2 separate regions of the Homo sapiens genome follow, and region 2 is reported to be linked to region 1. The links are microRNA targets in miRTarBase. Many come from high-throughput screens and were not tested one by one. Region 1 holds a microRNA gene; the other region holds the end of a gene's coding sequence.
What was found. Region 1 holds the annotated microRNA hsa-miR-6722-3p (UGCAGGGGUCGGGUGGGCCAGG, at 1,246-1,267, opposite strand). A microRNA usually pairs through its seed, bases 2 to 8, with sites in the 3' UTR of a target mRNA and lowers its output. Matches are read on the target gene's strand: a 7mer-m8 pairs with bases 2 to 8, a 7mer-A1 pairs with bases 2 to 7 and ends in A, and an 8mer does both.

Region 2: miRTarBase lists LNPK as a target of hsa-miR-6722-3p. The part of its 3' UTR that is shown has no 7-base or 8-base seed match.

The regions. Positions count from the first base shown.
Region 1 is chr9:136,745,658-136,749,192 of GRCh38, forward strand. MIR6722 (microRNA 6722) reads right to left here and starts at 1,313; the gene lies at 1,236-1,313. It overlaps LCN6 (lipocalin 6), which reads right to left and starts at 2,868. Exons shown (of 7, transcript NM_198946.3): 1 at 2,737-2,868; 2 at 1,767-1,906; 3 at 187-257. The coding sequence starts at 2,826. It overlaps LOC100128593 (a long non-coding RNA gene), which reads left to right and starts at 504. Exons shown (of 3, transcript NR_033913.1): 1 at 504-544; 2 at 1,421-2,915; 3 at 3,089-3,535.
Region 2 is chr2:175,927,519-175,930,518 of GRCh38, forward strand. It overlaps LNPK (lunapark, ER junction formation factor), which reads right to left. Exons shown (of 13, transcript NM_030650.3): 13 at 1-2,681. The coding sequence ends at 2,449. Among named protein-coding and RNA genes, the nearest start is that of LNPK, 73 kb to the right of the region's middle.

The sequences.
Region 1 (3,535 bases):
GAACAAGGTTCCAATCCTCTGTCCAGGGGCTTCTCTTCACCCTCAGGATGGGCAGCAATCCCAAGACCAGAACCTGTAGCCTCCTGGCTCTCGGGAGCGGAGTCAGCCCTCCGTCCCTGCCCGCAGGGGGCCTGGGGATGCTGCAGGGAAGAACGGCCTGGGTGAGGCCGTGGCCGTCAGACTCACAGGGATTCTCAAACACCCATCCGGAGTTTCGCTTTATCAGGTCCATGACACTCTGGTCACACCCTCCCAGCCTGGAAAAGAAGGGGCCTGTCACCCACTCAGGGTCAAGACCCCGGGGCCCGGTGAGAGGAGACGGAGCTCAGGAGTCCAGGCCAGGCCAGCCAGCAGTGAGGCCAGAGCTTCCATCTTCTGCCAGATGCCCCGATGCCCGGAAACCTGTTCTCGGAGAGTGGACGGCGTGGGAGTCCTGAGAGGGGCGGACACTCCCATTCACTTCCTGAGAGATCCTCAGTGCCAGATCTCCACCAGGAACGCTGAATGCTGCTGAGGACACAACAGGAGACTCGACAGACGGGAGGTTCGCCCGCGACTCGGGGGAAAGATGGGGTGGGGTGGGGGTTCGCCCGTGACTCAGGGGAAGGATGGGGCGGGGTGGGGGTTCGCCCGCAACTCAGGGGAAGGATGGGGCGGGGTGGGGGTTCGCCCGTGACTCAGGGGAAGGATGGGGTGGGGTGGGGGTTCGCCTGCGACTCAGGGGAAGGATGGGGCGGGGTGGGGGTTTGCCTGCGACTCGGGGGAAGGGGCCGGCGCTCCCTAAGTGGTCAGTCCCCAGAGTGAGCAAAACCCAGCAAAGGTGCAATGGTGTTTGCCAAGGAAGGAAACTGAGGCTGAGTCCATGCGGGAGGAACAGCAAGAAGAACTAGGAAAGCCACGTGGGAGCTGCCACCTCAGCCTGGAGCCCCTTGGTCCCAGCTCGCCCTGAGGCCAGGCCTGGCCCGGGGGGTGCAGTGGGGCCCCTGCCCATACCCTGCAGGCGCAGGTGCAGGGGGAAGGCACGCTGGTGAGGAGGGCAGGTTCTTCTCTCTGGGCCCCGTACCTGGCTCAGTGGTTCAGGCCTGGGCTCTGTCGCCAGCCTGCCAGGGGGTAGACACCCACCACGCCACCCAGCAGGCCACTCTTCTGTGAAGGGAGGCGGGCACCGACTCCTGCCCCAGCACGGCTACCCCCACAGCCCGGCTGCCCTGTAGGTGTCCCCTGTGTAGCACGGCCGCCCCACAGCCTGGCCCACCCGACCCCTGCACGCCGCCACCAGCCATGCATGTGGTCGGGTGCGCCTGCCTGAGGCCACAAGGCCAGTCTGGCCAACAGCGTCCATGACCATATTGTTTGGGGATTTATGTTATGAAAGAACCAGTGGTTCTTAGGTCCGAATGCATTATCCTCCTTTAAACAGAATTCCCGAAAAAGGCCTGCTGAGAGGACAGGCTTCCCCAGCTCTGACCACAGCCTGCAGCCCAGATGACCCAGGACAGGGATGCATGAAGGAGCATAGTCAGAGCAGTGCCCGCCGCGGTATTGAAGGTGGGAGTGCCACCTGGAGGCCCCAGGGACACAGATGTGAGTAGCTGGGCAGAGGGCTGGTGGCTCTGCACAGAGCCCAGTGGGAAAAGTGACGGGGGTGCAGAGGGGCCGTGGGAAGCCCCCAGGCCGCGGTGCCCGGGAGCAGATGTGCAAAGTACATGATGTGGCTGAGCCACAGTCCTGCCTGCGGGAAGGCCTGGCAGGACCCGCCCACTCACCCGTGCTGAGAGGACAGCGTCCGCAGGTTGTTTTCTGGAGTGAGGGTCACCACCACCCCCACGACGTTCTTCATGTCCTTCTCCATGGCAAAGCCCTTTTCCCGGGAGGCCACCGCAAGCACGTACCAGGGCCCAAGAAGCTGCATTGAGGCGGCTCCCGTTAGGGCCGCCAGCCCTCCAGCCTCCAGCCTCCAGCCTCCAACCCTCCAGCCTCAGCCTCCAGCCTCCAAACCTCCAGCCTCAGCCTCCACCCTCCAACCATCCAGCCCTCCAGCCTCCAGCCTCCAACCCTCCAGCCTCCAGCCTTCCAGCCCTGCAGCCTCCAGCCTCCACCCTCCAACCATCCAGCCCTCCAGCCTCCAGTCTCCAACCCTCCCGCCCTCCAGCCTCCAACCTTCCAGCCTTGCAGCCTCTAGCCTTCAGTTCTCCAGCCCTCCAGCCTCCAGCTTCCAACCCCCCAGACCTCCAACCCTCCAGCCTCCAGCCTTCCAGCCCTACAGCCTCTAGGCTCCAGCCCTCCAGCCTTCCAACCTCCAGCCTGCAGCCCTGCAGCCTCTAGTCTCCAGCTCTCCAGCCCTCCAGCCTCCAGTTCTGCAGCCCTCCAGCCTCCAGCCCTCCAGCCTCCAGTTCTACAGCCCTCCAGCCTCCAGCCCAGCAGCCTCCAGCCTCCAGTTCTCCAGCCCTACAGCCTCCAGCCCTCCAGCCTCCAGTTCTCCAACCCTACACCCTCCAGCCCTGCAACCTCCAGTCTCCAGCCTCCAATTCTCCAGCCCTCCAGCCTCCAACCCTCCAGCATCCACCCCTCCTGCCCTGAGGCTCCTGCCTGTGGGACTCCCCAAGGGCTGGCCCAACTAATTCCCCACTGCTCATGCTGGTCTGGGCTAGCCCTGGGGGGCCCAGAAGCTGTGTGGCCTTAAAGGAGGGGCTGGCCCCCGAGGACCAGCTCTCCCCACCCCCAGGAGGACTGTACCTGCTCAGGGTCCAGTCTTCCCAACCACACGGCCTGGGCCCTGGGCACCGAGACCAAAGCCAGAAAAGCAGCCAGCAGCAGGCCGCCCATCCTCCCAGGTCTACACTGCGCCGCAGGCCCAGGATGTGCAGTCCCTCCAGGCCCTGGAGACCCGTTTATATGGCTCTGAATTTCTCCGTGTGGGTGGCACTAACTGCCAGGAACCCTCCTGGCCTCCTGCAAAATTACCCAGGGGAGCACTGAGCAGTGGCAGCCTCTGAGCCCAGATCAGACCAGCTGCACAGCCAGGAGAGGGTCTGGAGTGTGTGGATCAACCATACTATACTGATCCCCTGCTTTCTTCCACCAGAAGGTTCCAGAATGGGCATCCTAAAGCCAGCCGCACCACCTCCCCCGTTCCTGGGGACCCACGCTCTCCCTCGCCCAGCCTGGGAAGCAGGGAGACTGCTGTCCGCTGCCAGGCCCGGCAGGAGGCCAAGGTCAAGCCCAAGGAGAGGAACCAGGGCGAGAACAAGTGGTTCTCAGGAACTGCGGTTTTGGATATCTTTTGTTTCAATCATTAAATATAAAAAGTCCCTGAAAGCCTTTTGAAAAAGGCTCCCACCTCCTCCTGGCCCACCCACCATTCTGCTTTGTGGCCTGGCCTCTGTCCCCCACAGCCAGCACCCCCAGAACAGACTGTCCTGTTCCTTCCACCTCTGCAGCCCACCATCCGGCCCTGCTGCCTCCTGCCTCCCCTCCCTGGGACCCTGGCCTGCTTGTGCCTCCCAAGGCCCCTTGAGAGCTCTCTGCAGCCCCA
Region 2 (3,000 bases), not on the chromosome of region 1:
AAGGGCATGGTCAGAGAACTGAAAGGAGTTCCATATGGCTACAGCACAATGATGGCGGGAAGACGGAGAGACAGAAGCTAGACCATGTTTGTAGATCATGCTCAGGACATAGAAGAATTTAGATGACCCACTGAACAATTGTAAGCAAGGAAGCTAAGATCACTGTAGCTAATGGTACTTAATAGCTTGGATTTTCTCATTTATACTAGTCTTAATAATCAGAAATAGGACATTTTACTAAGTTTCAACCATTAACTGTTTATTATAATAATAATGAAAATAAGCTTTTGTATCTAAAAGGATACTATATGGTTACAAACATGTTACCTATCGCATTAATTTTACTAATCCCCTTTTAACCTTCCTCCATATTTCTTTCAAAGATATTTCTCATACTATCTGTTTGAGTCTATCAAATTTCTCTGAGGTACTCACTCATTTTCAAGCAATGTATATCAGAATTTGAATGTTTTATAACAACATGACTAAGCAAGATGTTACTAAAATCCATATGGGTCAGTAACATACAAAAAACCTGATGAAATTATTTTTAAAAAGTTTATATTCCACAGAGTTTCAGTTTCCTATTTCCTTAATCTATGTATTTATATACATACATACAATATAGAAAAGTTGATGCAAAAAACATTGGCTTGAATCTGAGAAGCTGAATTACATGTTCGTATTATTTTTTACTTTCCTCATCTGCAAGAGGAAAAACTTATGGTCCTTGCATATTTTAAAGACATTAATAAGAACAAATGCCATCGTTTTCAGGTAGTGTGCTAGGCACATTACATTATTTTTAATTATCCTAATACCCTTCAAAAATAAACATAACTCTTCCCATTTTACAGATGAAAAAATAATCTCAGTGAGTTTATAGGTGACTTGCCCAAGACTACAGACCTGAAATTTAAGCCCAATACGGCAGGCTCAAAAACTCTGGTTACTATACCGGATGTCCCAGACTGTTAACAGATTGAGTTCCAAAAAAAAAAAAAAAAAAAAACTGTCACATATGAGATATTAAATCATAAAAATAGATTTTTAAATGATAAAAATGTTTTGTTCAGTTGTTAATAAACTGTGTGCAACTTAGAAACATTAGCCAAACACACCATTCTTATACAGGTATATTTTTCCCTTCAGCATAATAATTTGATTTCCATTTTTTTTAATATTGGAGAAGAGAGATAAAAGGAGGCCGTAACAGATAAGCACACTGTATTAAAGGTCCAAGAATTAGCACTGAGACACATTTTTTCCAGTTAATCCTTAATACAAATATTAAATCCAATTAACTACCAGCAACCCACTACCTATTCTCACAAAATTTGTTTCTCAAAGTTAAAAATTACAAATGGCTGGCCTACGATGTTCCTGAATCAGAAAAACCTAACTTCTGATTAAAACCTCTAAATGTCACTATTTCTGTTAACTAGAAAGGAAACAAGTCTGAATAAAAGTACCATAATTTGCTCTAAGCAGAATCTACAGATTTATTGTATTGTGAGCTATTCCTCCTAAGATTTTTCAGGTAGCCAAGTCACCCACCAAGATACTGTTTGAAGAAGACTAGATATTTAGCAAAATGAAACTGATGCCAGATTATTTTCATTTTCCTTAATAAAATACAAACAAGAGCACAAAATTCACTTATATATCATCATTTTATACTTATAAATAATGCTCAGAATTCAAATAGGGTCAAGTGCAGAAATATTTCCTATATGCTAGTGTGTAAATATAAACTAATTATATACATAATGTGCCTTTGGCCCAGTTGTAAAATAAAAGACATCAAAAAGAAACACTGCAGTTGACTGTTTCATTGCATTCTCACTGAGAATTCGTACCAGTGCCAACGTAGTTACAGTTCTACTTAACTGTTCCACTGCATTCTTATTGAGAATTCGTACCAGTGCCTATGTGGTAACAACTTTCATACCGCTTAATGTAAACACCTAAATAGACATTTCTCCCAGTTGTAAATATCTCAGGAGCTAAAATTCTATCAATTTTTAATAATGAAGTAGTCAAAATCTTAACCAAGTTTCATTCCTTAAAACAAACACAATTAGAGAACTTACTCTTAACCAAAGTTCTTCCTATGTCAAAATGGATATTTACGGGTTATACATACAGAAAACAAGAAGGCAATCATGTTTGCTTACTTTTAGAATGGACAAAAAAGTATCTAAAAGCTGTCTCAATAGTGTGGGTCTTTGTACATTCAAAAGGATCTTACTTCACTGATATAACTTGCTTTTAATTTTAATACCCAGTATATATAACTTTGAGATGTTCAAATAGCTAGGCAATCTGAATTCAAATGATACACAAGCATACCCTTAGAGGGGCAAAAAAAGTAAGTGCCACCGAAAAAGCAATAACTGACATCAGTAAGACTATAAATATCCAGTTGAAGGCACGTGGAAGCATTTACTACTCTGCCGTCAAAGATTCTCCACTTAGTTCAGGATCAGGAATAGAATCAGCTCCAGGAACTGTGGAGTTGGTTTCAATCACTGAGGCTTCCTCATTCTCAGTCTCTTGTTTCTCCTCTGGTTCCTCTGAGTCAGATGCTTTTTCAATCACTTGGTTTGTCTGTTCTGTAGCTGGTATTTTGTCATCTGTCTGCTCTGTATTATCATCAAGAACATCGTGTTCTAAAGATTCTGAAAAGATAAAGATTCAAAACTTTAGGAATACCTGAACGTTAAAACTGCTAAATAAGGCAAGCAAAAAAGATAAACACACACACACACACACACACACACACACACACACACACACAAAGAAACCATACAATTGTCTAACATTATCCTTAAAATCTTTTACAATAAGTACATAACTCTCTTTACAGTTAGTATGATAGAAGAAAAAAAAAGTAATTCAGAGGAAAAAAACCCATAAATATACTTTTTCTAATGTCCCATATTTTCATACAAAATAAGTTACTAAAGACACATCTGAAAGTTGAAGTCCAAAAATCAT